Linked DNA regions of Homo sapiens. The gene in region 4 interacts genetically with the main gene of each other region. Each region holds a gene or a part of one and is shown on either strand. Other genes may lie near its edges.

What was found.
Region 1: changes in AOC1 (region 4) and NT5M together harm fitness less than expected from each alone (positive genetic interaction), as found in Homo sapiens cells (one large-scale study listed by BioGRID).
Region 2: changes in AOC1 (region 4) and UMPS together harm fitness more than expected from each alone (negative genetic interaction), as found in Homo sapiens cells (one large-scale study listed by BioGRID).
Region 3: changes in AOC1 (region 4) and PFKFB1 together harm fitness more than expected from each alone (negative genetic interaction), as found in Homo sapiens cells (one large-scale study listed by BioGRID).

What each region holds. Positions count from the first base shown.
Region 1 is NC_000017.11:17,317,628-17,325,614, reverse strand, and holds part of NT5M (5'(3')-deoxyribonucleotidase, mitochondrial isoform 4 precursor), read right to left. Parts: intron 2,431-7,987; coding exon 2,370-2,430; intron 1-2,369. UniProt on the Homo sapiens protein: Dephosphorylates specifically the 5' and 2'(3')-phosphates of uracil and thymine deoxyribonucleotides, and so protects mitochondrial DNA replication from excess dTTP. Has only marginal activity towards dIMP and dGMP.
Region 2 is NC_000003.12:124,733,452-124,739,408, forward strand, and holds part of UMPS (uridine 5'-monophosphate synthase), read left to right. Parts: intron 1-1,641; coding exon 1,642-1,795; intron 1,796-4,116; coding exon 4,117-4,788; exon of another isoform or gene 4,789-4,992; intron 4,993-5,957. UniProt on the Homo sapiens protein: Bifunctional enzyme catalyzing the last two steps of de novo pyrimidine biosynthesis, orotate phosphoribosyltransferase (OPRT), which converts orotate to orotidine-5'-monophosphate (OMP), and orotidine-5'-monophosphate decarboxylase (ODC), the terminal enzymatic reaction that decarboxylates OMP to uridine monophosphate (UMP).
Region 3 is NC_000023.11:54,989,246-54,997,742, forward strand, and holds the start of PFKFB1 (6-phosphofructo-2-kinase/fructose-2,6-bisphosphatase 1), read right to left. Parts: upstream 4,944-8,497; 5' UTR 4,787-4,943; coding exon of another isoform or gene 4,763-4,786; coding exon 4,666-4,762; intron 1,476-4,665; exon of another isoform or gene 1,394-1,475; intron 1-1,393. UniProt on the Homo sapiens protein: Synthesis and degradation of fructose 2,6-bisphosphate.
Region 4 is NC_000007.14:150,851,034-150,858,764, reverse strand, and holds the start of AOC1 (diamine oxidase [copper-containing] isoform 2 precursor), read right to left. Parts: upstream 6,249-7,731; 5' UTR 6,207-6,248; intron 4,662-6,206; exon of another isoform or gene 4,602-4,661; intron 2,311-4,601; 5' UTR 2,295-2,310; coding exon 725-2,294; intron 3-724; coding exon 1-2. UniProt on the Homo sapiens protein: Catalyzes the oxidative deamination of primary amines to the corresponding aldehydes with the concomitant production of hydrogen peroxide and ammonia.

The DNA.
Region 1 (7,987 bases), on a different chromosome or scaffold from region 4:
CTTGTCAGCCTGCATGGAACTGAAAGGAGCAGGCAGTTTAGGAGGCCCTGTCAGCTGTACTGGCAGTAAATGCCAAGATGCTGGCAATGAGAAGAGACAGAAGCAGACAGGTGCCAGGCACGTTTTCGAAATCGGTCCCATGGGACATGGGACTCACCAACAGGCTGGAAGTGAGGGCTTAGAGGAAGACATCAGCACGGCCCCTGATTTCCGACCTGAGGCCACCAGACAGCACTGCCATGCACAAGGAAACCAGCACCCCAGGGACAGATACATCGGGTCTGAGTGTCTGGAGCTCAGAGGGCAGTCCCGGGCCGAGGCAACGCAGGTGGGACAGCTGGCACAAAGACAGTATCTAAATCCCCAGGAACGGATGAATGAGGCCATGTCGTTCATCTCACTCCCACAACTGCTGGTCAACCACCATGGCCACCCAGTGAAACTCCAGCTGAAATAGTGACTCCAGTCCCGCAATCCTTAAACTTGAGGGTGTATGAGAATCACCTGGCGGGCTCGTCAGACCCACATTGCTACTCCCAGAGTGTCTGATTCAGAAGGTGTAGGGTGGGGCTGAAAAATGTCCACTCCTAAGGAGTCTCCAAGGGATGCTGACTCTGGTCTCAGGACTCACTTTGGGATCACTGCTCGACCTGAAACAGTGGGCCTGGCCCACACTCTGAATCCACATTTACTGGCTGCAGGTAAGATACTCCTCTCTCCTAAGTATAAGTGAACTCGTGCTCCTAGCGTGTTAAAAGGGGGTCAGCGAAGGCCGGCCATGGTGGTGCGTGGTGCGCAGCTGTGTTCCCAGCTACTCAAGAGGCTGAGGTGGGAGGATCACTTGAGCCCAGGAGTTCGAGGCTGCAGTGAGCTGGGATGGCACCTGTGAGTGGCCACTGCACTCCAGCCTGGGTGACAGAACAAGACCCACTCTCTAAAATCATGAGGGATGTCAGGGTAACTAGGGAACAAGGTGTCATGAGGACATGATGAAACAGTGGGCACCAAGCACCCACATAATGCCAGAGCAACTGTTCAGCAAGTGTGATTCCCACTGAGCACACAGAGGGCACGCTATGTTGGCTGAATGTGTGAATTTCTTTTTTTTTTTTTAAATTAAGTTTTTTTGTGGGGGGACAGTCTCGCTCTGTCACCCAGGCTGGAGTGCAGTGGCACGATCTTGGCTCACTGCAACCTCCACCTCCCAGGTTCAAGCAATTCTCATGCCTCAGCCTCCCAAGTAGCTGGGACTACAGGCATGAACCACTACACCCAGCTGATTTTCGTATTTTTAATAGAGATGGGGTTTCACCATGATGGCCAGGCTGGTCTTGAACTCCCAGCCTCAGGTGACCCACCTGCATCGGCCTCCCAGAGTTCTGGGATTACAGGCGTGAGCCACCGCGCCTGACCATGAATTTCATTTAAATATGGAATCCAGGCCAGGCACGGTGGCTCACGCCTATAATCCCAGCACGTTGGGAGGCCGAGGCAGGCACATCACCTGAGCTCAGGAGTTCGAGACCAGCCTGGCCAACATGGCAAAACCCCGTCTCTACTAAAAATACAAAAAAAATTACCTGGATGTGGTGGTAGGCACTTGTAATCCCAGCTACTCAGGAGGCTGAGACAGGAGAATTGCTTGAACCCAGTGATCTTGGCAGTGAGCCAGGATCGTGCCATTGCACTCCAGCCTGTGCAACAACAAGAGCAAAACTCTGTCTCAAAAAAAATGGGAATCCAGAGCGGAAAGGTCATGTGAAGAACATGAAAGAACTCATGCCTGAAGGTTTGACGCCCCCAGAGCAGGAGGGGCTCTGGACTGAAGATCTTGCCTTCCTCAGCTCGGGAAGAGCTGCTCCAACGTCCCCAGGGAGGGCCGGCCCTGACCCCTCCGGCATGAGTGCTCTCCTCCAGGGCCACAGACCTTTCCTCTGGGTTTGGCAACTGCAAGTTCCCAATTTCCAGAAAGGTCTCAATTTCATGCAACTCTAATTCTTTTCAATAAAGATAATAAAGTGAGTATACAGCAAAATGAACTTTACCCACCTCACCTTTTTAAGACTTTTCATGTTAATGCATCCACGTGCCTTCAGGCCCTCCCCAGGCATGGTTCTCACCCTTCAAAGGCCTACTCTGGGCCAGGCTAACCTGACACAGTGACAGGCACCCTTCCTGGAGAACCTGCATCATAAGAGGCCCCATCTAGAGCCTCAGGCTGGAGAGGTCCTTGGGGAGCAGAAAGCCGCTGTCACAGAGGTGGGGGAGTGCTGTGAGGGTCCATCCCCTTTCCACAGGCAGGCTGAGCCCCGTACCCCTCACCTGTGATGCATGGGGTAAGGGCTCAGCTGAGCAGACGCACGCCTTACCTTCTCATAGGGACAGTACTTGAACATCTTGATGGGGCTTGTGCAGATGAAGACGTCAGTGCTGTCAACAAGAGAAAGGAGGTTGAGCCTGCAGCCCCATGACTTCACCACCCCGAGGCCTTCACCACCTGCCCTGCCTTCACAGGGCTGGACCCTCTGAGTCTGAACCCTTCCCCTGCTGTGGGAGACCCACTCCCCTGTACTATATCCACACCAGAGGTGTCGGCCTATCCCATGGCCCTGGGCAGCCACATGACCCTACCCAGCCACAGGCAGCCAGCTCTGGGCTGGACATCTGACTGGAGGGCCTCCTGCAATGCAGAGTGGTAAGTCAAGAAATCTATGAGGAAGAAGGATTCTGGCATGCAAGTCCCCTGGCCTGGAGAACACAGAGAAGGAGCCTACTCCATGCCAGGCTAAGCCCTGCAGTGATCGAGTCCCTGAAACACAGGCTTGGCCTTGGCTTGGCTTGGCTCCGCGTGAGGAGCGCCACATCCCCAAGGTCGTAGCTCCGCGGGAGAGCTGACCCAAATGGCCTCCCAGGTGCCTGCGCCCTCATGCCCACAGGGCCCCAGCCCTCACTAATGGAGCCACCTGGTCCCAAACACCCTCATGAGGCTGGCGTTCGCTACTGGAGCCTGTGCCTCCTGCACGTCTTGCTGAGCCTCTGGAAGATGGCACTTTGCTGACGCTTTCTCTCTGGCAAACGCGTCCCTCAACAGGCAGAGGTGAGACTCCCGGGTCCCTGGGCACAGGGTGTGCCCTCTCATTACCTGATACTTGGCACTACCTCCACCAACCACGCAATCCCCTCTCCTAAAGACTCAGCCTCTCCCCAGCATCCTCACTCCTGCCCCAACCAAAACTGGCCTCACACGAAGGGAGCACCTCCCCAACTCGCCTCTGAGTGACAGCTGCCTCTTCCTCATCCCCCACAGACTTCAGAGATGGCAGGTGAGGGCAGCGTCTGCCTTCTCCACTGCTCCTTCCAGATCCCTGATGCCAATGCCCACACTCGACAGCACACCCCTAGAGCCCTTCCTACTCACTGTCACCTACCATTGCCAGTTACTGTCCCTTATGCACCTCACTCGCTGGCTCGCCATCCTCTCCATTCCTGCTCTATCACCATCCTCAGTGACTTGACACACACATGTCCACATATATGTGTGTGCATAGGTACAGATCCAACACCTTGTCGCTCAGTTCCTAACCCTCCCCACCTCCAAACAACTTCCTCTCCACCTCCAAACACCCAACCTCCAATACCTCTCCTAGTGTCACCCCCGGAGCTTGGAATCACTTCCCCCCAAAACCTCGTCTCAGGCTTTGCCTCCCTGGCCACCACCCACGACGCTTCAGCAAATGCATTATCTCATTCTGTACTCAACTCTTCAGCCTCGTGGAGACACCCTCCTTGTCCCAGCTTAGCGGCCTGCCTTCATCCAGCTGGGGCCCAGCCTTCGCTGCCATCCTCTGCTTGTGCTTCTCATCCTCCACCCAGGCCTGTCTGGCCAGGCCCTGAAGGAGCCCAGCTATCCCACTGCTCCCACCTGCACCCAAGCAACTAAATGTTGCCGGAGAAGAAAATTCACATCATCAGTTGGACTTGTTTCACCTTCAATTCCTGACACCAAGCCAGGGCCTGCAGCTGCCTGGCAGCTCTCTTCAATGCCCTCTCTGGTGCTCTGGGCACAGCCAGGACACACCCGCCCCATTTCCTCAACCTTCTTGTGGGTGAGACTCCAAGCCCACCTCATCATGGATCTGGAGACTCACCTGCCGCCGGGCTCACTTCTTCCTCCCTTCCTGCTGCACAGGAGGAAGCCACACCACTCCCTTCTCCTGGGCTCCACCTGTGCCCTGGATCCTCCCCCTCTGCCCTTCACAGACACTATGCCCTGCAATACCCGCTTGCTATCCTTCTCCACAATCCTTATTCAAACGTGTGCTGGAACCTCCCAAATGCCCACTTGCTATCCTCCTCCATGAACCTCATTCAAACGCATGCTGGCACCTCCCGAATGCCCGCTTGCTATCCTTCTCCATGACTCCTCATTCAAACACGTGCTGGCACCTCCCGAATGCCCGCTTGCTATCCTCCTCCATGACTCCTCATTCAAACGTGTGCTGGCACCTCCCGCCTTAGATATATACACACACAGCCTTGACCCCCACATTCCAGCTGCTCCCTTCGAAGCAGAATGTCCCCGACAAGCTGCCTCCACCTACCGACCCCACTCCCTCGCCTCCTGCTCCTGCTTCAATCCACTCTAGACTGGGCCTGCCCCTTCACTCCACAGAAATTGCTCCTTGTCACCAAAGACCCTAGTGTCCCTCTGTCCAATGCCCATCTCACCATCCTCACCCACAGGTACTCAGCCCAGCTGGCCACGCCAGCTCTCCTGGGCTCCCCTATCCTGGGTCCTAGCCTGCGCTCCTGGCCTCCTGATCCTCGCCAGCCACCCAGCCCAGACTCCCCGTCTACTCCTCTCCTGACCGCTCCAGGTTGGGTCTAGGCCCTCGGGGGCTCTCAGCCTGCACTCCTGCTTTAAACACCATGTGCATGCTGATGCGTCCCAACCTCTCCCAGCACCAAGTTTCCACCCACCTGGACGCCTCACACACCTCACACAGGATTTCCAACGTGGGAAACGTGATCCCCTACTCCTAAAGCGTGTCTCTCCCCGAGTCTTCCCTCAGTTCCTAGTCTATTTTAGATAAACAGAGATGATAAAGACAGAGCTCTGCTCAAGCAAAACACCTAAAAATCACCTATTTTTCCTACCTTTATTCCACCCCCAATATCAGATCCATCCCCAGGTCTTATGGGTCCCGCCAAAGCACACGTCATCCACCCACCTCTCTCCACAGACCTCACCCTAGTCAAACTGAGTCGTCTCCCACTGAGCGGCTGCAACCACCTCCACTGACTCTTCAACTTCCAGTTCTCACCCCTCCAAGCCATTTCCACCCAGCATCCAGACCCACTCTTTTTAAACAGCTTTACAGAGGTATAAATAATATAATAATCAACATGCAATAAACTGCACATATTAAAAGGGTACAATTCAATAAATTTGAACATAAAGACATACGTGGGAGGCTGGGCGTGGTGGCTCACGCCTGTAATCCCAGCACTTTCAGTGGCCAAGGCAAGCAGATCACCTGAGGTCAGGAGTTCAAGACCAGCCTGGTCAACATGGTGAAACCCTGTCTATACTAAAAATAGAAAAATAGCCGGACGTGGTGATGAGCACCTGTAGTCCCAGCTACTCGGGAGGCTGAGGCAGAAGAATCACTTGAATCCAAAAGGCGGAGGTTGCAGTGAGCCGAGATCACACCACTGCACTCCAGCCTGACGACAGAGCGAGACTCCGTCTCAAAATAAAGAAAGAAAGAAATATTTAAAAAAAGTAAAAGACACACATGGGAAACCCAGATCACCACAATCAAGAAATAAACACGCCTGCCACCCTCAAAGGTTCTCCTTTGTTATCTCTCCCAGCTGTCCCTCCCGTCCCTCCCTGCCCCTGGGGCCCTAGGCAACCACCCATCTACTTTCCATCAGTACAGATTGGATAGTATTTTCTAGAATGTTACATAAAAGAAAGTATAGTCTATACTCTGTTTTGCCTGGCTTCTTTCATCCAGCAAAACTATTCTGATATTCGCCCATAGTGTTAAATAAATGTATCAACAGTGTGTCCTAATTGTTAAATAAATGTATCAATAGTTTGTCCTAAATTTTTAAATGTTTGAGTAAACATTTCTTAAAAGTTTTACTGAGATAGAATTCATATATCCTAATATTCACCTATTTTAAGTGTATAATTAAATAAATGTTAGTATATTTACAGGGTTTTACAGCCATCACCACAATCGAATTTAAAGACACTTCCATCACCCCAAAAAGAAGCCCCATTCCCATTAAGCAGTCATTCCCACAGCCCCTCCCCACAGCCCGGGGAACCAGGGGCTGCCTAGCTCTAAGGATTTGCCTCTTGTTCAGAAACTTTTTTTTTTTTTTTTCTAAGACGAGGTCTCACTCTTGCCCAGGCTGGAGTGCAGTAGCTCAATCTCAGCTCACTGCAACCTCTGCCTCACAGGTTCAAGCAATTCTTCTACCTCAGCCTCCCCGCAAGCAGCTGGGATTACAGGCACCCACCAACACGCTCAGCTAATTTTTGTATTTTTAGTAGAGGTGGGGTTTCACCATGTTGCCCAGGCTGGTCTCGAACTCCTGACCTCTGGTGATCCACGTGCCTCGGCCTCCCAAAGCACTGGGATTACAGGGGTGAGCCACCACGCCCGCCCCATAATATTTCACATAAATAGAATCCTACAATACGTGGCCTTCTGTGTCTGGCTTCTTTCACTCAGTATCATGTTTTCAAGGTTCATTCATGTTGCCACATGAATGGGTAGGTCATTCCTTTTTTTTTTTTTTTTTTTTTTTTGAGACGGAGTTCTGCTCTTGTTGCCCAGGCTGGAGTGCAATGGCGTGATCTCGGCTCACTGCAACCTCCGCTCCCCAGGTTCAAGGGATTCTCCTGCCTCAGCCTTCCGAGGAGCTGGGATTACAGGTATGTGCCACCACGTCCAGCTAATTTTGTATTTTTAGTAGAGACAGAGTTTCTCCATGTTGGTAAGGCTGGTCTCAAACTCCGGACCTCAGATGATCCGCCCGCCTCAGCCTCCCAAAGTGCTGGGATTACACACTTGAGCCACTGCGCCCAGACTTTTTTTTTTTTTTTTTTTTTTTGAGACAGAGTCTCGCTTTGTTACCCAGGCTGGAGTTCAGTGGCACGATCTAGACTCACTGCAACCTCCCGTTTCCCCAGTTCAAGTGATTCTCCTGGGTCAGCCTCCCAAGTAGCTGGGATTACAGGTGCCTGCCACCAAGCCTGGCTAATTCTTTTTGTATTTTTAGTAGAGACGGGGTTTCGCCGTGTGGCACTGGCTGGTTTCAAACTCCTGAGCTCAGGCAATCTGTCCCCCTCAGCCTCCCAAAGTGCTGGGATTACAGGCATGAGCCACCATGCCCGGCAGTCATTCCTTTTTATAGCTGAAACATATTCCATTGTGTGGCTACGTCACATTTTAAATATCCATCCATCACTTAGTGGATACTTGGGGTTGCTGTGAATAGTGTTGCTGGGACATTCGGGTACTAGTATTTGTTTGAATACCTGTTTTCAATTCCGTGGATATACACCTATGAGTTGAATTGCTGGCTCATACAGTGAGTCTATGTCTAACTTTTTTTTTTTTTTTTTTTTTGATCATGGAGTCTCACTCTGTCACCTAGGCTGGAGTCCAGTGGCATGATCTCAGCTCACTGCAACCTCCACCTCCTGGGTTCAAGCGATTCTCCTGCCTCAGTCTCCCAAGAGCTGGGATTACAGGTGCCTGCCACCATGCCTAGCTAATTTTTGTATTTTTAGTAGACAGGATTTCATCATGTTGGCCAGGCTGGTCTCAAACTCTTGACCTCAGGTGATTCGCCCTCCATGGCCTTCCAAAGTGCTGGGATAACAGGCGTGAGCCACCATGCCCGGCCTAACATTTGGAGGAAATGTTTTTCAAGGTGTTTTTCCACACTGGCTGCACTGTTT
Region 2 (5,957 bases), on a different chromosome or scaffold from region 4:
CCCACAGGTTTAAATCAGATTGGGGTATTTGGTCCTTGTGGGATTCACAAGATGGATTACTGACTGCCTTGCTGTGAATGGCACAACTCACACCTTAATGTAGCTTCGCATACAGCTTGGGAAGAACATAGGAGGCAAAGTTGCTCACTGCAGTAATGTCCCTGACTGCTGCGGCCTCTACTATGTTTTGCACGACGAGCTTCTTAATGGTCTTTTCCTTGGGCATGCATCGGACATAGTATGTGCCACTACTGGCCACAGCCCTTTTTGGCACGATCATTGTTCCTTTCTTTTCTTTGTCATCTTGGAAGTAAGGACCTGAGAGAGCTACAGAAGAATTCTTGACATCTAGAGACTTATGGTCATGGGAAATTTTTTTTTAATTACCATTTTAAATTTCAGTTTACATACATATAGACAAGTATGACAGAGGGATCAGTAAAAGCTTTTCAAGTATAATCATATATTACTTTAGAATAAAATTCTGTGGACACAGTGGAGTGAAAATATGAGTTGGAAAAAGATGTAAAAAATTTTAAACTTTTCATAGTCCAGCAATTTCACGTTTTGTTTTTTTAAATGGAGATGGTGGATATCCAGTCACTAGCATTTGTATTCCAAGTTTATTCCTTAAAAAGAGTGATAAAACAGTTCTAAGATAATATGTTAATATTTTTAGTACTAGAAATTACATTCTCTGCAACTTAAAATAGTCATAGTTTTTTTTTGTTTGTTTTTTTACTCTTTAGAAGTACTGGTGTAAACCTATGATCTAGTTCACAAAGCAACTCAGTGACTGTTTGCTTTTTTAAAAAAAAAATGAGGTGGTCTTGGGTGGGAATATGTATCCTAACATTAAAATATGATGATTTATGTGGAAAAGGAGATTATAAAATAGCAATTCACACAATAGTCTGTATTTATGAAACTTCCTAATTGAAGGCTTCTTTCAGGATATATAACTAAAAGATGATAGGTTTAGATACTCAGCCTAATGGGTTACTGAGGAAACCAGGAAGTCGGGATCGTCCTTAGTCTTTGGGGTCAACATCATGAGCTTCCCCAGCACATCTCAGGTTGCCTTCAGAACAGATTCTGAGTCTGGTTGAATAGATTCATTCTTGTGTTTTTAGATTTATATTTGTGTACTGGGTTTATGGAGAGGGTAATAAAAAGGCATTTGTTTTTTTTTCTCCAATCAAGTTTGAGACTTACCCCCACTAGTTTATTACTGTCTTTTCTGTTACGTTGTTACATGTTTATACACTATTTAAAATAGTTACAATAGGCTGGGCGCAGTGGCTCACGCCTGTAATCCCAGCACTTTGGGAGGCCGAGGCAGGTGGATCACAAGGCCAAGAGTTTGAGGCCAGCCTGACCAACATAGTGAAACCCCATCTCTACTAAAAATACAAAAAAATTAGCTGGGTGTAGTGGTGCGCGCCTGTAATCTCAGCTCCTTGGGAGGCTGGGGCAGGAGAATCACTTGAACCTGGGAGGCAGAGGTTGCAGTGAGCCGAGATCGCACCACTGCATTCCAGCCTGGGCAACAGGGCGAGACTCCATCTCAAAAAATAAAAAATATAAAATAAAATAAAATAGTTACAATAAAACATTGTTTATGTGTTCATTTTCTTACAGGTTGCAGATATTTTATTCCAAACTGCCCAAAATGCAGGCATCAGTTTTGACACCGTGTGTGGAGTGCCTTATACAGCTTTGCCATTGGCTACAGTTATCTGTTCAACCAATCAAATTCCAATGCTTATTAGAAGGAAAGAAACAAAGGATTATGGTAAAATAAAAGTAACATAAAGCATGAAGTTAATTAATCTGTAACATCATACTCTTAGAATTTTTCCGCTTCTGTGCACTAATGTTTTACCAGTCATCTTGAGTTCTTTAAGTTGTTACTGCTTGTAGAATTTATAATTGTTACTATAAGTCACCTTCCTTTTTTTAGACTTGGGGTGAAATGCTTTGTATTGATTAGGAAATGAAAAGTGCTTTTTTTGGTACTGTATCTATGAAACTCCAACATTTTTTTTTTTTACCAGCCCTTCCCTCATCAGCAAAATGTTGTAACAGCACATACTTTCCCAGTATGTTTGTATTTAAACTTCATGAAAAGTAATCCATGGATAAAATTACTCTCATAAAGCAGTGTAAACACCTCAGAGAGATATTTTTGTGGGTTCATGGCAATAGATTATCAGGTGACTTGCTTTAAAACCCGAAAATTTGTCCAGGCACCATGGCTCACGCCTGTAATCCCAGCACTTTTGGAGGCCGAGGTAGGCGGATCACTTGAGGTCAGGAGTTCAAGACCAGCCTGACCAACGTGGTAAAACTCCGTCTCTACTAAAAATACAAAAATTAGCTGGGCGTGGTGGTATGCACCTGTAGTCCCAGCTACTGGAGAGGCTGAGGCAGGAGATGCGCTTGAACCCAGGAGGTGGAGGTTGCAATGAGCTGAGATTGCGCCACTGCACTCCAGCCTGGGCGACAAAGTGAGACCCTATTTCAAACAAAAAAAACCCTGAAAATTGGCCAGGCACAGTGGCTCACACTTGTAATCCCAGCACTTTGGGAGGGCAAGGTGGGAGGATAGCTTGAGCCCAGGAGTTTGAGACCAGCTTTGGCAACGTTTGTCTCTACAAAAATAAAAAAAGAATACAAAATTAGCTGAGTGTCACAGTTACATGGGAGGCTGAGGCAGGAGGATGCCTTGAGCCCAGGAGCTGAAGGTTGCAGTGAGCTATGATTATGCCACTGCACTGCACCCTGGGTGACAGAGCAAGACTGTCAAAAAATAAATAAATAAAACCTGAAAAGCAATCTTAATGATAGTAAGGAATTAATGGGCTTTTTTGTTTATGTTGGTTTATTAGTGTTTTGTTACTTTTTTTAAAACAAATCCTTCTTCTACAGATGCATTCTGAAAATTTTTATGATTAAAAAAAAGAAACATATTAGTTGAGTTTTTGTGGCGTAAGGGCAGTGTTAGTTTTTCTGTTTTTGTTTTTTGTTTTTTTGAGACAAGGTCTCACTCTGTTGCCCAGGCTGGTCTTGAACTCCTGGTCTCAAGCCATCCTCCTGCCTCATCCTCCCAAAGTGCTGGGATTACAGGTGTGAGCCACTGCACCCAGCTGAGACTTTCTGAGCTAAAAAAAAACTGTATGAATCCCTACCCATAAGAAAACTCTTATTTCTATTATTTTATGTTTTAAAAACTGTTTCTATGAAATTATGCATTTTTAAATATACTATAAATACTTGCAGTCTTGTGTTCTAGCTTAAGCTGATTCAGTTAAACTTACCAGTTGTTCAAGAAGCGGAAAGGATTTGATGAGTCTAAAGTCTACAGCCCAAGTTATTTACGTTTTGTAGATTATCTGAAAATAGTCTAGTGGGATTTGGGTAGAGAAGTATATATTTAATCACATTGCATTATATAATTCTTTAGATTGTAGTAATGGGTCTAAATGATTGCTGAATATTTTTCCTTCTGAATTTGTGTCTTCAAAAAGTCAATTATTTGGCTGATCTTGAATAGTGAACTTAAAATACTTTGATGGAAAAAGGAATTATTTCATTCATGATACTGGATTATTCTGTTTCATAACTTTCCTTGATCTAGGTGATCTTGCTGTAAGAAACTCTGTATTTAGGCTGGACGTGGTGGCTCACACCTATAATCCTAGCATTTTGGGAGGCTGAGGCGGGAGGATCACTTGAGCTCAGGAGTTCAAGACCAGCCTAGACAACATAGTGAGACCTCATCTCTATGATAAAACAGATTTTTTTAAAGTAAAAAAAAAACCTCTCTATTTGAAAATTTGATCATAAAACACATTAAGCAGTGTTTATAATGTGAAATAATTTACTTGATTTACTATAAATATACTGTATGTGTAACTGGCAAGTTTGGTATACAGAGTTGGCTTTATACATAAATATACTGTATGTGCAACTAGCAAGTTTGGTATACAGAATTGGTATACACATATACTGTATGTGTAACTGGCAAGTTTTGTATACAGAGTGTGTGTACGTATATACGCACATATACATACATATTTAAATTTGGAATCAGCAAAATTTTTTCTTTTCTAGGAACTAAGCGTCTTGTAGAAGGAACTATTAATCCAGGAGAAACCTGTTTAATCATTGAAGATGTTGTCACCAGTGGATCTAGTGTTTTGGAAACTGTTGAGGTTCTTCAGAAGGAGGGCTTGAAGGTCACTGATGCCATAGTGCTGTTGGACAGAGAGCAGGGAGGCAAGGACAAGTTGCAGGCGCACGGGATCCGCCTCCACTCAGTGTGTACATTGTCCAAAATGCTGGAGATTCTCGAGCAGCAGAAAAAAGTTGATGCTGAGACAGTTGGGAGAGTGAAGAGGTTTATTCAGGAGAATGTCTTTGTGGCAGCGAATCATAATGGTTCTCCCCTTTCTATAAAGGAAGCACCCAAAGAACTCAGCTTCGGTGCACGTGCAGAGCTGCCCAGGATCCACCCAGTTGCATCGAAGCTTCTCAGGCTTATGCAAAAGAAGGAGACCAATCTGTGTCTATCTGCTGATGTTTCACTGGCCAGAGAGCTGTTGCAGCTAGCAGATGCTTTAGGACCTAGTATCTGCATGCTGAAGACTCATGTAGATATTTTGAATGATTTTACTCTGGATGTGATGAAGGAGTTGATAACTCTGGCAAAATGCCATGAGTTCTTGATATTTGAAGACCGGAAGTTTGCAGATATAGGAAACACAGTGAAAAAGCAGTATGAAGGTAAGTGTATTATTCAGGAATCTGCAAGAATCAGAAATCCAGCTTAAACTGAAGAAGAAAAAGGAAATGCTCATGTCATTGAAAGTCCATTCATAGAGCAGGCTGTCAAGCGTGGTTGGATCCAGGAGCTCAAGTGATATCTTCATGACTTGCTTTCTCTCCATCTCTCAGCTCTGCTTTCTTCTCTGTTGACTTCTTTCTCAGGTAGGCATACTCTGCATGCTCACCCCAAACCAATCACTCTAGCTTGGGATGTAGAATACCTTCATTAACTAGCCTGGGCAATTTGCTCTGCAACTGTGAGGTTGTTAACTCTGTATGACCTTCTTGAAATAAGAACCAGTCAGGGATAATTTCCTTAAAGAAAATGGATGTGCTAGTACCAGAAGAAGGGTATGTGCCTGGGCAAGCAAATTTGACAGATGTCCTTGGCAGAATATGATGTTTTGAATGAAAATTCCACATAAAGGAAACAATGAAAAAGAAATATAAAATGGTAAGATTTATTTGTAGCAGAAAAAGTTCTATTGATAAACATTATTTAAAGATTTTTCTTTTATCAAATAGGGACTCAAAGTAGTGCATGTGTTGGTTGAGAAAAATGCTTAGTTCTACTGCCTATTCTATGCAAATTTCTGTCTATGTTTTTACAACTGTGTGATCAGACTATATTTAATGCATTTTTCACTTAACCTGGTAACAGATATTTGGTTGTGTCATATAACATTTTTTGTAGGCATCTTTGAGGTAACTTTTCTTTAATGTATGCATGTTCATAAGCTATTTCTTTAAAATAGATTTGTCTTTAAGTGACTTCTTCATGTGCTTAAGATGTCCTGCCCTCATCACATTGCCTAGCTTACTTTAGCTGATTGACTGACATAAGAGTTTTATACAAACTTTCTTCAGCTCTGCATAGAGTTTTTTCGAAAATCAGGCTTGTTACTGTCCGCTTTTAAAAGGAATATAGTTGCCTATTGAAATTAGATAGCTAAGGAGATCTAAGGAACACGTAGAAATATTGAGCGATAGTAAAGCTGCTGAGAGACCCCTGCAGAGTGAAAACTTGTCATCTTCAAGAAGAATTTTATTTTTATTATTATTTTTTTTGAGATGGGGTCTTGCTCTGTCGCCCAGGCTGGAGTGCAGTGGTGCAATCTTGACTCACT
Region 3 (8,497 bases), on a different chromosome or scaffold from region 4:
AATTTTTTAAATGTAGGAAAACACATACCAGGCAAATATTAAGCTAAATAAAGCTAATGTAGGTATATTAATATGAGAAAAAAGATTGATTATAGGGCAAAAACATCAATGATACCAAATTACCAGGTATTACCAGAGTTAATAATTTCCTTACATGGTGATAAAATATTCAATTCACAAGGAAGATATAGCAATTCTAAATTTGTTTGTAACTACGAACTTTCAAGATTGACAGAATTACAAGGAAACATTAACAAATTTTCCATATCAACAGGCAGCCAAAACCCCAGAAGAATATAGAACATTTGAGCCAGATTAACAAACACAACTTAATCGAGGTATATAGTACACTAAACACAACTGTAAAACGCACATTCTTTTCAAGTGCTCTTGGAACATTTACCAGATTGTCCATAAGTTGGTCCATAAAGCAAGTCTCAACAGATTTCAAAGAACTGAAATAATACAAAGTTTGTTCTCTGACCAGAATGGAATTAAAATAGAAATGACAAGAGCACTGATCTATCAAAACAGAAGCTGGTCCAAGGGCTGGCACCAAGTACTGGAGGCCTCCTGCTGTGGTAGGCATTAATCCTTTAGTTGCTAGATGATAATCAGTAGGTCCTGGCTATCCTGGGAAAGGAATTGAGGTGGCCAGGGTAACTGGGTAAGTGTTGGAGAGACTAAAAAAGCCTGGGAGAGTGCCTATTTATAAAATGGACTAGAAATATTCTGAAAATTCATATGGCCATACGATTGTGAATCTGTGGAATATCAGCCCTGTTTAGTAGGCCAATTATCTCATTGGACACTTAAATTAGAAAAGAAGAAAGTCTGAAAATGAATGAGCTGAGCAGCAGGCAACTCTATGAGTTAAAAAAGAACAACAGAATAAATCCAAAGAAAGTAGGAGAAACAGAATAATGATGAAAAAATAGTTAAATAGAAAATAAAGATAAAAAAGGATCAAAAAGTCAAAAGTTGATTATTTTAGAATTATAAAAGTGTCAAACTTATAGCAAGATTGATCAAGAGAAAAAAGGTGCAAATAAATAATATTATAATGAAAGAGAAGCTATAACTACAAATGCAACAGAGATAAAAAAGATACAAAGATAAGAACTTTACACAAAATAAATTTGAAAACTATGTGAAGTAGAAAAATTCATAGAAAACCATAACTTAGGAAAGCTTAAGAAAGCTAACTTTAGTGGAAATAGCAAACTGAAAGGACTCTATAACTGATAAAAGAGATTGTATCAGTTAAAATGTTAAAGGAGACACCAGGTCCAGATATTTTACCTGGAAATGCTGCCAGGTAAAATATTTGAGGAATGGCTAGTTCTGCAGACAACCTCTGTCAGAGGACAGAATGAAAGGAAATAGTTCCCACCTGATTTTATGAGGTTAGTGTAATCTTGACACTCTTGGAAAAATCACAGGCCAATCTCTTTCCTGAGCAAAATGCTAAAATCCTAAACAAAAAATTAGTGAAAGAAATTCAGAAGTTTTTATTTATCCCAGGACTGCAAGATTATTTCAACACAAGAAAAACTCTAATGTATTGTACCACATTAATGGGTTAAAATAGAAAATTAATGTCATTTCAGTGAATACAGAAAACATGTTTAATAAAATTCAATATTCATTCATCTTTTAAAAATTGTATTGGCAAACTCAGAATAAACAGGAACGTCTTTAACCTATTAAATGATATCTACCAAAAAAACTACAGCAAATTTGCTCAATGGTGAAACTTAAAATCGGGATCAGCATAAGAATATACATTATTAACATTTCTTTTCAACGTGTACTGCACATCTCGTGTGTGTATATTAAAGGCGGGAGGTCTTAGCAGTGTAATAATATAAGAAAGATAAAAATGAGGGTTGTGGGGAAAATGAAAGCTGTCATTTACATACAAATTATCAAAACTCATAAGAAAGTTTAGCAGGTTTGCTAGTTACAAATTCATTACATGAAAAACAAATACAGTTGTATACATTAGCAACATACTGCTATAAAATTTAATTTTCTAAAAAGGTACTGTTTAAGATAGCAACAAAAAATAAGCCAAAAAAATCTTACAATGGCATGCAAACCTTTTATAGATTAAATTATAAAACTTCACTCAACATGAAAAAGTCTGAATATATGGAGTGATATACCGTGTTTAGGGAAGACTCAATGTCACAAAGATGGCAACTCTCCTCAAATTGACTGATTTACAGATTGAATGTAATTTCCATCAAAATCCCAAAAGTTCTCTCTCTCTCTCTCCCTCTCTCTCTCTCTGTGTGTGTGTGTGTGTGTGTGTGTGTGTGTGTTTGTATATGTGTGTAACTTGGAAAGCTGATTCCAAAATTTATGGAGAAGGGCATTGGACCAAGAATAGCCAAGACACTCCATAAGAAGGACAAGATGAAGGGACTTGCTCTACCAGGATAAAGGTACAAGAATGCCCATTGGATTATTCTTCATAATCAAAAATTAGAAACTAACCAAATGCTCAACAATAGTAAGATGGATAAACTGTGGGATATTCACAAGGGGAATAAACAAACTACAACTGCTTGCAACGATAAAATGGGTGGTTCGCATAAACATAATGTTGGATGAGAAAAGAATATGCACAGCTGTTCAAGTACTTTACATGTTAATGTATTTAATCTTCAAAATAACATTAAGTAACTGTGTGTCTGCTAGAGAGGATGCTCCAAGAAAAAGGTGATTCAGACCTTACAGGGACCAATAGACTGGCCTCCCTAGCAAGAAGTGAACCAGACATTGTCCAGACTTGGCAACCACTATCTAAGTTTTTTGCATCTATGGTCTGATAAAATTTAGTCAAATATTAATGAGTGACTGTCTTGTACACACAGAGCCCCATTCTTGGCTATGGTGAGTGGTAGAGTGGAAGTAGCACAGAGTGACCATTTACTGAGCATCTACTATGAGCCAGGATCAGGGCCTGATGTTGAGGATATGATGGTAAATAAGACCACACACCCGCTTTCTTGTTTATATAACAAGAACAATAATAATTAGGATAATTAACAATTACTGCGTATGTACTATGTGCTGGACACTCTTCTAAGCACATCCCATGCTCCAGTTCATTTAATCTTCACAACTACACTGTTATTAACTTCCTTTTACAAGTGAGGAAACAGAAGCCAAGAGAGGTTAAGAGAGTTGTCCAAGGTCACAGACACAGGGGGAGATAGAGCTGGAACTCAAACCTAGGCAGTCTGGATCCAGAACCTCTGAATCAGTGAATTACTCCCAATAACACTGGGTTGCAGGCATTAATCCTGTTTTATAGCTGAGGAAAGTGACACTCCAAACAAAAGTAAGCACATATTTATTTTTCACCTTCTATTTGATAGAGACTATATTAGGTGATTTATGTATATTATCTCTCCAACTTGAAAGACACAGTTCCCAGGACTATAAGCATTCTAGCTCTGGAGGACCCGTGTATGCAGAGAATGGCTTGCTTGTTTGTCAACTAAACAGCCCCTTGGAAAAGGCCAAGAGTGGCTGGCTGGGCGAGGGTACCTCTCAGTCTCCAGGCTCCTAGATCTCCAGATGAGTGAGTGAGAGAGCTGGTGGAGATAAGAAAGAGAGAGAATAGGAGCCTAGTCTTTTTTCTCTCTCTTCCTCCACCCACACCCTACCTCCTGTATATTATAACTATATTTAACATCCTATATGCTCCTAGATCCTCTAAGCAACTACTGCTACCCCCAATATCCCTAAGCCTGGGCCTCCTCTAGCATTAGCAGACTGGAAACTTGGTTAGCTGGCCTTTGGGGTGTCTGAGTCCCACAGTCCACAGCTGCCTTATCTTAACCCACCTTATGGCCACTCAGGCCACAATCCCTGGGCTGGATGCACCTTGGTCCACCACTGTCGCCTGTTATCTATGGGAAATGGTACACTCCAGATTTTGTTTTAAATATGTACAGGTTTTGTTTTGCCCTTGATCTTTCTTAAATTTCCAAAGTGAGCACCACACCAGTGGGCTGGCCCTGAGAGACTGCCTCTCTCAAATTTCCAGAGCAGCAAGGAAGTCCATATGTGCCAGGAAGGCAACACTGGAGACAGGACATTAAGTGTTTCCCAACCTAGGCAGGTATAGACTCAGAAAAGGCCTGAGAAAGGAGAGGAGCAATACTGACCAGTGACATGGCACTGTTGTGTACCCAGCACCTGTCCCCTGAAAGATGATGCCAGGAGCCATCACCTTATTTCACCCAGGCACTATCAGTCAGGCAAGACCAACTCCCAGACACTTCACAGAAGTCACCAAAATGAAACATACTAGGCTATCACTGAACAGTCCTAAACTAGAAATCTTAAATTCCAAACAAGAAGCATTCCAAACAAGCTCTGCATAAGAAAGGAAAAGTTCCTAAAGATCCCTCTGATTAAGATGGTCTTAACCTAATCCTCCTTTGTCTTCATCTCTCTTTCCGCCTGTCTTCTCTCTCATTCTTTTCCTCACGTTTTTGACACTAGCCTCTATTTCATCCAGTTGTTCATCTATTCCAACTTTTAGGTTGAGGTAGGAGTGGATGGCAAGGGGAGGTGCATCCTTTGCTCTTCTACACCCACTCTACCACCACCACCTTTAAACCCACGGAAGCAAACCCCACTTACAGCCCCTTCTCCGTTGCAGCCTGCTGCTGCCGCTGCTGTGTGGAATCCAGATCTTCTGCAACCTGGTTTGGGTGAGCTCTCCCATCTCTGGAGACATCTTAGGAGTCGCACCGAATGACATCACTGCCCACAAGGTACCTGGCCTCACTTCCTATCTTACTAGCTGTCTTTTCTCTCGCTGTGGCCACAGCAGCAGGTGGACAGGGCTGGGACAGGGGGTGTACTGGGTTTCTGAGCCCTCTCAAAGTCTGTCTTCAGTCCCCTCTCTTCTTTCCTCTGGTCCTAGCCTGCCTCTGCTCCTGTATGTACTAGTGGGGTATTGGGTGCAGAGGGCGAGAGGTTGGGCAGAGGTCAGGAGAGGCCTCTGAACTCCAAGGGCTGTGTACATAGGAGGTAAGTTGGAGCCCAACAAGGAAGGCAGCCAGCAACACAGCCCAGGTCTGACCAGTCACTTCCCTCCAATGAAGACAAGACTAATAGAGTATGCAAATAAAAGACCAAAGATCATGTGCTTACAGCCTGTGTGGGGTATAGAGGCAAAGGTGATGGAGGTAGGTCTCAGCGGCTTTCCCAGCTTTGAAATAAAAAAATGGGCCCAAGTAGAATGTCAAGCTCCAACCCAGAAACCAAGATTCACATCAGAAATGCAAGGTTCCCAAGGACAAAAACACAAACACAAAGTCCCTACTGGGGAATGCAGTGTTTTGAGCTGGCAATTAGAGGCCCAAACTGGACATGGAAGGTCCACTACTTCTCTGCTTCCCCGACCCAAAATGGCATTGCATCCCTTGTCTTCTCTGGATTCTGCTGCCTTCCTTGCCACAGGGCCTCTCCCACCTGAAATGTGCTGCCTGGAGCACTCTTGAAGAGATGGGCACTATCCGATCATCTTTCTACTCTCTCCAGCCAAGGGCTAAATAAATAGGAGTAAACTGACACCTTTGGAAGAGTGCAGCCATTGCCTGGGGCTGGAGGTGGGGGAATGGTAAGCTCTGCCCACATGGCTGTTAGCCACCATCAGATGCCCTAAGGAGAATGACACTGGCATCATGAACTGATAGAAAATTTCACTAAAGTTCCTCATGCCAAGCTATTAGGATGGAGATTTAGGAGGGTGGAGGCTGCAGCAGGGAACAGAGAGCAATGGCCTCAAAGTAGGACAAGTCCATAGGCCAGAGTCATCCAGCCCAGATGACTCACTCTCACCTGCCCTCTCCCGCTCCCCTGACCCGTTGTTTTGAGGCTTTTATGTGTATAACTCATAGAACTGCACAGCTTGCCTCGAAGATGCACAAGTGTCCTCTTACTTCACTCTTTTGCAACCTTCCCACCCCCAATGAACCTCCAACGATTGGCTATGAAGAAGCTCAACTTTCTTCCACTGAGCTGGGCTACACAAGGGCAATCTCTTGGGGACAGAAATTTCCAATCCCTGCCCTCAAATGCTCTCAGTTCCACTTTGCCTTTTAAGAAGTTCCCTAAAATACATTTGCAAGCCGTAGTCTACACAAGGGTCAGATTCCCTCCAGTTGTTGTGTATAAATCATACCAAATTTTTAATACATTCCAGAGCCCACCTATCTAAATGAATCAACTGAGATAGCAGATCATGATGGTTAAGAGCAATAGGCTCTGGAGCAATATTTCTTGAGTGGAATCCTACCTCTGCCCCTTGTTGGCTATGAGGCAATGAGCAGAAGACTAAACTTTTCAGTGCTTCAGTTTTCTTATCTGGAACATGGGAATGATAGGAGTACCTACCCTCCTTAGGACTGTTGAAGATTCAATGTGTTAAAAAATGTAAAGCAATCTGTGAAATGTTAAAAATATATTATCTAACACTGTTACTCCCTTTGGGAGGTAAATGATCAGACACCTCCTTGACTAATCTGAAACTTCTAATATAATGCTGACCATACAGAAAACTCTCAGTTAAGGAAACTTACAATATTATGGGAAAGGGTTAACATTTATAATACACAAAGAGCTCCTGCAAATCAATTAGAAGGATGAATTTGGTTTTACTCTTTTGATTTTGTGTAAAGACTTGCAAGATCATTTCATCTCACCCTCTCAGGTAAGAAAACTGAGGTCTAGAAATATTTTCCTAAGGTCATGTAGTAAATCAGTGGCCAAGTCAGGAATAGAACACTAGGGACCTAATTTCTCCCAGGCCAGGGCTTTTCTTTAATTAATCAAACAAGCCTGATCTAAGAATGTGGTCTTACAGGTTAGCTCAGAACCTCTAGAGTCTCAGAACTAGACTTTGTAAGAGATACAACTCTTTTAATTCTAATAAATTTCCTAACTGGTATAAATCTGTTAATATTAATAATCTTAATTATAACCCTTTCCCTGTATGTTTTCCATTGCCCACAAAGCAACAACATATTCCTTATCTTATTTGATCCTTGCAAACATCCTTGTTAGCCTTACAGGGAAACTGAGGTCTGGGGAGGGGAAGTGGCATGTTCAAGGTAATCTAGCTGGTCACATGAACATCTCTTTTATGTTTACAATTTTGTCCTCATGGCCCTGCCAACAGGCAGAAGGATAATTTTAGCAGCAGGAAATCTGAGATAAGAAGCTGGCAGGCTTTTGACAAAGTCTTAAAGGGTAAACCTGGGGTCCAGGCTTGAAAGCCTAACTTAAAATTGCCTGGAATTAGCTATGAGATTCCTCACTACTGTTACCAATTCTGATCCCAGAAGCAGGAGACCAAAACAAGCTTTATGGAAAGACCTCAGCTTGGCACTCAAGACTTTTCAATCAAGCTTCAGCCTATCTGTCCAGCCATATCTCTCCTTAGATCATCCTTAAACTGCACTGGCTGACTCACTGGGCCCCAAAATACATGGTGTATTTTCCTGTTTTTTGGCCTTTGCTCAGCCTGAAATGCCATTTTCCTCCTTCTATTCCCAACAAAATCTGATCCACTTTTCAAGGTCTGGTTTGATGTTCACTTCCTCTGGGAAGTGACCCCTGTATCCTTGGGACAGGCCTTGTATTTGGTTCTTATATTGCCCACATGCTCCTATCTGAGCAAGTATCCACCAGTATTTTCCTGGTCTGCTTCCCCACTAGACTGTGAACTCCTTGAGTATGGAGACTAGATCTCAGTGATCTGTAATTTGTGTTTCCAGTGTCCAACTCAGGCCCTGGCACAGAGGACAGAGAAGACACTTGCTTATTGTGTTTGTGCAGTCTACATCTCTCTGCCCTAGATGAGATGAACTTGTGGACAACTAATCCTAGTTCAACAAGGTAAATATTATAACAGAGAGCTGTGCAGGGAATTGGATGGGAGAACTAATTTGTCTGAGGTAGGAGGTGGCATCCAGAAAGGTTTCTCTACCTTGAATGGGACAGAAACAGATAAAAGAATGAAGTCCTCTCTGAAAAGGGCCAATGAACTCGTGGCAGAGAAAGGGTTCAGTCAGTACCAGATTCTCATTCAAGATCAAGCTCTGACCTGCAGCTCTTGGTCTAAAATTCTAAAATGGGGCTATCTCTAGGGAAGAAAAGATTACAATGTGATTTCCCAAGGCCCCCAGATCCTGACCCCATACCCCTCCCAAAGTATAGGGCATGTGTATCGGGGGAGAATACCATGTAAAGCAGCATATGACAGTGCTGATGGATAATAAAGTCACGAATGGGGTCTCCCTATTGGTAGCTCTCAGACTGTTTGGGTATGAATGCATTTGTGGAGAGTGAAGGTGTGAGGGGAGATCGACCACACACTTACAAGCTAGGTGCATGTATATGAGTGTCAGGCCTTCTGTGACAGCAGCCTAGGATCCCCTTCCTTCTCACCCACTGTCCTGGCCCA
Region 4 (7,731 bases):
GCCTGGAGGTATGCAGGGAGAAGGAGAACGAGAATCAAGCTGCCAGAACTGAAACCTCCTCATTCTACCCCAGGATCTCCATCCTCCACCACATCCAACAGCCAACTGTCTTGAATAACCGGGATGTTGGGGGATGCCCTGGGCGGCTGTGGTGATTCCATTACCACTCTGGGAAGTTCCTCTCAAGAGCTGTGCTCATGCCCATCTGCTGTGGCTGCAATCCTAGAGCAGGGGCACCCATTTTTCTCCAGGCATGGGAGGCTCTGTCCAGAGAGGTGACTGGGGCTGAGGGGTAGGAGCCGCCCGTGTGGTCCTGGTGGCCTTGTTGGGTCTGGCAGCATTAGTTATTCTACCCATGCCATTCTTTTATGGTGATATCATCCAGGAGACACCCTGAATATTCCCAGACAATACTACACTCCATCTCAAAGCGCTAGACAGTGACATTTCTTACCCTCATAGGCACCGTCCCCTCCCTTGCCCCATGCACAGCCCCAGGGTCAGGACAGGGTCCACACTGTTGCATCCAGGGCAACCCTCGGCACTGTTCGCTTTCACCATTTTTCAGGGACACACAAATTTCTAGCTTTAGGTTTTACAGAAGCAGGCTTGGCAAATGCTCCTAACTTTCCACCACCAGGGAGTTATAGTGCCGTCTCCTGGGAGTTTAAGTTATTGGCTGGATGCAGATGTTTGAACGGGAGAGTCTCGCTTTGAGTCCTACCTGCCACATCCAGGTCTACGCGGTAGTGCACCAAGTGAGTGTGTATGTTGCCAATCAGGTGGGTGTGCAGGCGAGTGCCGTGGCGCAGCCCCTCGGGGGTGTAGAAGGTGGCGTGGACGTAGCCAGTGGCATGCATCTTGGCCTCCATCACCCCGTTGGGGTAGAAGATAAAGTCCCAAATGTAATCATAATTGTAGACAGTTGAAGTTGTCCGCAGCACCAGCACCTGGCCCTTCAGCCCCGCATAGAAGTTGAAGCCACCTTTAAAGTTGGAATTAAAGTGCCGCCGAAGGGGCACCCCTGTGGGCATTTCAAAGAGGCAGAGGGCTCGGGGATAATGGACCGGGTCATCGGCATCATAGTAGTGGAAAGTGTCCAGGAAGGTGGCGGTCTCCGGGCAGTCGATGCCGGGGGCTAACTCATGAGTGACGCTGCCCAGGCCCCAGCCGACATCGAGGTACTTGGTCTGCATGCCTGCAGGTGTGTGTCCTCCATACAGCGCCACTGCCTCTTGCACGCTGACCTCATAGGCAATGCGCTCTCCGCCGAAGTGCACGTTCAGGACCTGCAGCCCGGAGGAGGAGCGCAGCCGGAAGGCAAAGCTCCAGCCGCCGTAGAGCACAGCGTTGCCCTCCAGCCTGAAGCGAGGGCCGTGGGGCTGGACCAAGCGGGGGCCGCTCACATGGATGGGGCTGGGGAAGTCCCCGCGGGGCTTGTGGGAGGAGAAGAGGGGCGGCTCCTCTGTGCTGTCATGCCCCTTGCCCCCAGGCAGCGGGTCCTCCAGGACCACCACGTCCACCTCTCCATCTGCATACTTCCGAGCCAGTTCCTCTGGGCTCCCATAGAACTTCCCGTTGTACCACACCTGCTCCACGGCCCAGTGCCCAGCATCTGTGCTCCCATGATCCACGAGGAGCTCCAGCCCAGTGGGGTGCAGAAAGTAGCCTTCTACATAGCGCTGTATGATAAGCCAACTGCGGCGCTGGCCAGAAGCCACACCCCGGGGGGCCACATCGGTGAAGGCCAGGCATCTGTCATGGCAGTCTTGGAATGAGAAGCCTGTGGTATTGAGGAAGAACTGATGCAGGGGCTTGGTGGCTTCCTGCAGGGTGTGGTAGAGGAGGGCATACTCTGCTGTGGAGATGGGCCTCGATGCCCAGGAGGACTGGTACCCAGGCCTGGGGGACAGTGCTCGCATGTAGCAGGGCCCTGGCAGGGGCCCCACAGCAAACTCGGTGACATTGGGATGCTCCTGGTCACCAAAGAAGATGACGGCACGGGCTTCCCGCACAGGATGCCTTTCACCTTTATCCAGAAACCTCAGCACATGGTACTTCTTGGGCAGCAGCATCTCGATGAGAAACACGGTGTTCTTGGCCATGGTGGTGGTACTGGAGGGCTGCAGCCTCAGCTCCTTCTTGGACCAGAGGAAGCTGTGCACTGCCTTCAGCTCTTGGTTGCTTAGGTCTGAAAACACCCCTGCCTTCCTGGGCAGAGTCCCCGGGGAGGGCTCCGCCATGGCCGTCTGCAGCATCAGGATGGCAGCCACGGCCCAGCCCAGGGCCGGCATCTCTCGCTCCACGGCTCTGGAATGCAATAGAGGAGATGAACTTAGTTGTCTTATGGGCAGAGATGGGCTTCCCTCAGGTTAGGGCCATGGAATTTTCCCATGGACTGAGCTTCCTCCCCTTGCCCTGCCCCAAGCTGGAGGCTGTCCTGGGGCAGCTGGGGCCCCATGCATAGTCCCCAGCGCCGTCGGGCCGCTGCCTGTGCATCCATCCATTTATTTCTGCCCTCTCCTCACTCCTCTGTAAATGTCCTTCAGTCCTGCAGCCTTCCTTACTCAGGGGAACACCCTTGTTTTTGTGTATTATCTCAGCCAGGGGTGCCGTGAGTCACAGAGGCCAGGCTGGGCCCCTGCACATGCCCCCAGGTGCTTCTTGTGTCCTGGAGAAGAAGACACCTGTATTAACAGCAAAACTACATTTCTGACACAACGAAATACCTTTTAGGTAGACAGATTTTGAAATTTAGTGTAGAAATTCAAAGGTAGGCTCTAGAGTCAGGCTGTCTGAGTCAAGTCCCAGTGACTCATGCCACTAGGACTTGCTGTGTGGCCTTGGGCACGCTGCTTAAACTCTCTGGGCCTTCATGTTCTTAGTTTTAAAATGAAAATAATGACAACAGTGCTTAGCTCCTAGGGTTGTGGAGAGAAATCAATTAAACAGTAAATATAAAGTGTTTGTAACAATGTCTGCCATATGGGAAATACATGAGAAATGTTAGCTGCTCTTCTTGTTAAATACAGGCTATCGACACCAGCCCATTTAAAGTTTTACGCAATGTAGAGTGATTCAGGTGTGACTAGGCTGCAGACTGATGGCTTTGGGGGTGAGGTAGAGGTGCCCAGTCCTGCCTAGCCTTCTTTGTGCCCCATTCACCTCTCTTGTCCACCCAAGGCTACTAGGAGGGGACCTCAGGGAGGGTTTCATCTTAGGAAGATGCCTTTTCCTTTCTCAGGGAGGGTGGGTCAGGGTCTTCACCTCATAACCCCATTCCCCAAGCAGCTGTAAAATCCTGTGCTTGTAGCTGTGAGCCTCCTGCAGGGCTGGGAGACGTGGTGGCCACAGCTCTGTCTTCCCATGTGCTGTGTGCGGAGTCTCTGGGAGACTGTTACTCTTGCCTGTTGCGCTGTTGCTACAGATGCTGGCTGGAGCTGTCTCCCAGCCTTAGTTTCTCCAGACCCTAACTTGTCCTCCTAGGTGATGTGGGCCTCCCTGGAAGGCTGCCGTCACCGTGAAATTTCCCTACAGAAGCACTGCCTTTGCCACCTTGCACCCCCTTCCTCAAGGCTCTGGGTTGAGCTGGGAGCCCCGCTTCAGGATTCCTCCCTGTCTCAGCTGTGCTTTTCACTTCCTGCAAGCAGTGCCTGAGGCACAGACACTTGATTTATAAGGTGGATGCATGAGTGGGTTGGACTCTGAGAGATCCTTGTTTTCATATTTTCATAGGTAGTTGCCTTTTGCTCCCTAAATCAGAAGCCCTGGGGGTAAACCTGGAGAAAACTCGTTCTCCTGTGCAGACAGACAGGTAGCAGAGAGGGTTAATCCACTCCTGTCTCAGACCTCTGCCTGGCCCAGCCTCTTCCCAGGGGGCCCAGGCTGCCTGCAAGGGAGGCCCCGAGGATTTCACCTGGAAAGTCGGCGGCACAGGGTGTGAGGTGTAACTGAGGTGCAGCAGCTCCACTTTGGGTGTATCGTGGAGTGACCCACTGAGGAAACCTGACCATCATGAGCGCTTTTCATTTCTTGCTTTTGTTTTTGGAAAATGCATTTACACATCACATTTCCGAAGCACAAGCGTTGGGAACACAACCCATGTGTTAACTAGAGGCCCTGTTTTCCCGTGGCTTTTTTCCTCCAGAGAAGCTCAGCTGCACATTGTCCCTTCCCACCCGACTCTGGGCCAGTGTCACATCCTTTGCCACCTTTTGAGGTCAGCTGAAACCCCGCACTGCCGAGGAATGCTGTTTTTGGCCCCAACTAACATACTTCTCCACTAGTCCCCTTAGCACTTTGTATTTAATTTGTACACGATGGGCAGTTCTTGATTCATAGACAAATGAAAGGTGTTGGCTGGGCCTGTTCCATCACCCGAGGGCTCTCTAGCCCTGGAGGCCACGGTAAAGGCTGATCTGAGATGTCCTTCTCTCCCTTTCCCATGCCCCTCTCCCCGAGGGCTCTCCCCTTGCCCTCGTTTTGCTCCATGGTCATGGCCTCTCATGGGGATGTCCCTCTAGTTGCCTTGTCTTGCCCTCTGGTGCTGGCAGAAGACCCTGGAACCCACATGATCTTGGGCTCTCGGAGGCCCTGCTTACCTGGAGGGAGCAGGTGAGGCAGGGGCTGCAGGCGGAACCCAGAGCCAGCAGGAAGGATATGAGGTGAGTTCTTGTGTTCTCCTATTAAATATTGGCCAGGCCTCTTTTTTTTCTTCTTTAAATAGACTATTTTTTCTTTTTCCTGAGACAGTCTTGCTCTGTAGCCCAGGCTGGAGTGCAGTGATGCGATCTTGGCTCACTGCTACCTCTGCCTCCCAGGTTCAAGCAATTCTCCTGCCTCAGCCTCTGGAATAGTTGGGATTACAGGTGTGCACCACCATGCCCGGCTAATTTTTTGTTTTTAGTAGAGATGGTGTTTCACCGTGTTGGTCAGGCTGGTCTTGAATTCCTGACCTCAAGTGGTCCACCTGCCTCAGCCTCCCAAAGTGCTGGGATTACAGGCATGAGCCACCAGGCCTGGCCCCAAATAGACTTCTTATTAGACTTAAATAAATAAATAAATAAATATATATATATATATATATATATATATATATATATAGTCAGGATCTCACTATGTTGCCCAGGCTGGTCTTGAACTCCTGGGCTCAAGTGATCCTCCTGCGTTGGCCTCCCAAAGTGCTGGGATTATAGTAGACTTTTTTTTTAATAGACTTTTAAAAATAGACTTTAATAGATTTCTTAATAGACTTTATAAAGTCTGTTAAAAGTCTTTAAAAAGTCTATTAAAAGTCTTTTAACAAACTTTATAAAGTCTATTAAAGTCTTTTAAATAGGAGTCTTTTAAAGAGGAATTTTAGGTTCATAGCAAAATTGAGCGAAAGGTACTGAGAGTTTCTGTATACTCACAGCCCCTACACACGCAGCCTCCCCACTATCAATATCCACACCAGAGCCATACATTTGTGGCTGATGAACCTGCACATCACTCTCACCCAGAGCCCACAGTTTACATCAGGACTCACTCTTGCTGCTGCATATTCTATGGGTTGGACAAACGGACAATGACATGGATCCACCATTAGAATATCACACAGAATAGTTCCACCTCCCCCAAAATCTTCTGTGCTCCACCTCTTCCTCCGAAACCCTAGCAATCACTGCTCTTTTTATTGTCTCCATAGTTTTGCCTTTTCCAGAACGTCCTGTATTTGGAATCTTACAGTCTGCAGCCTTTTCAGATTGGCTTCTTTTGCTTGGCAGTGTGCATTTAGGGTACCTCCATGTCCTTTCACGGCTGGGTCTCCTTTTTTACAACCTCTTATACCCACGTTTCTTTTTGCTTTTCCAGGAAGGAGAAAGATGTGGAAGAGACCTTTGCTTTCCCCAGGACAAACCTCTGTCCCCATGTGCAGTGGCAGTGGGGGTGGTGGCTGGTGAGACCTCCAGGCAGGAACAGGAAGCAAGCCCTCTCCCTGCTCACCCTCCTCTCTGAGCTTTCCCCACTCCACCCTGGCCGGCTGTTGCCTGCCACCAAGCACCCGGGCACCTTCTGTGATGTGCTGGGCTCCCGCCCTCACTTCCTGGCCCTCCTCCCTCTGTGTCCTGTTTCTTCTGCCCCTCACTCTGTGCCCTCCTTCCACTGCTTTTCTGTCCTCCAGGTCAGCCCCTTCTTGACTCTCCCGAATACCCATCAGAACGCACCTGTGTGCTCTGCTCCCAGTTCGCTCTGCTTCCAGCCTTTGCCCTTAAGCTGATCTCTGACTCCTTCTTGAAGTCAATCAGACCCCGCCCTGCAGGGAGGGACAAGGTGAGGCCTGAGCTGGCCTAGGAGGGGCCTATGGCTTGGGAGGTGCCTCTGTGGGCAGCTACAGTGGCGAGAGTGGGTTTGAGGAAGCTGGCTGTGCAGCACACTTGTCCTGAGTCTGTTTCCAGACAAGTGCCGCCTTCCACAAGAATTTGCCTTGGCTTCTCTGTGACGAGCCATGCAATGCCACGATCTGTTAATTTAGGTGGCATATTTTAGAGGCAGAGATAAGGACAAGGGGCCATTTCCTAGCCGGTAGTCTTACCTGAAGCTGACAGATGGACCAGGGCAGGGGCTGATAGAGGCTGGCACCCACAGCAAAACAGAGAATTCAACCGCTCCTAGAACAAGACACCAGAGGCAGAACCGTTTGGGAGGAGCAGCCACTCAAGACGAGTTGCAAACTTTGGCGGCTTTTTAACGATCTTTGAGACCCTGACCAGATTCAGAAAGGAGGAAGGACTTGGCTGGGAGAAAGCTGGCCAGGGTAGCTAAGGCTATGGCACAGAGCGGAGAGGGGAGAGGACACTGGGGCAGGTAGTGCCCATGCAGTGGGCGGACAGTGCTAACGCCCACTTAGTCAGGTTGAGAAGGGCGAACGTGGTGACCGGGGTAACTCCTAGTTGGAAAGGAAAGAATAGAGTCAGGAAAAGTTCGTGGCTCAGGAGTGCCAAGGGGTCATCATCCCCCATTACCAAGGTTTGGTTGCTCAGGGATTGCACACCGCTTTGTGGTTATAGGGGTTTTGTATTTCTCATCATCATCCTTCCTGCTGCCCGCAATGCAAGCCATTTCAGTGTGCACTGGCAGCTAGATGAAGGAAGGTGAACACACTTAGTCAACTTGAAGCTTGCTTGCAATTCCAGAAGGTCTTTGGTGTTTCTGAGGAAGGGGATTTGCCTTCCATGTTAAAATGATGATTGATACAAAGACAATGAATGCTAACGTCTTTCACCCTCAGTGTTCAAGAGGACTGTGAGTTATGTATTCTCAGTTATGGGCTCACCAACTCCGCAGAGAATTGGGGGGATTTGGATTAGAAGAGAGTTTCAGGAACAACCTGATTTTGAGGACTACAATCTGTTTCCATTCCACAAAGGAAACTGCGACAAAGTTAATGGAGTGAGGATGGATCGAGAAAAGAGACTTGCAAAGATTTAAAGGGAAAGGGGCCACATGCACATGATGGAGTTAGACCCTTTCACACACGGAAACGGACTCGAAAGGGACCAAAGACATACATGTAAGAGCTAAAACTGTAAAACTCTTAAAAAGAAAACATAGGAGTAAATCTGCTTGACTTTACATCTAATTCTTGGATGTGACCTCAAAGCACAAATAACCAAAGAAAAAAAAATAGATAAATTGACATCATCAGTATTAAAAGACTTTTATGCTTCAAAGGACACCCACAGGAAAATG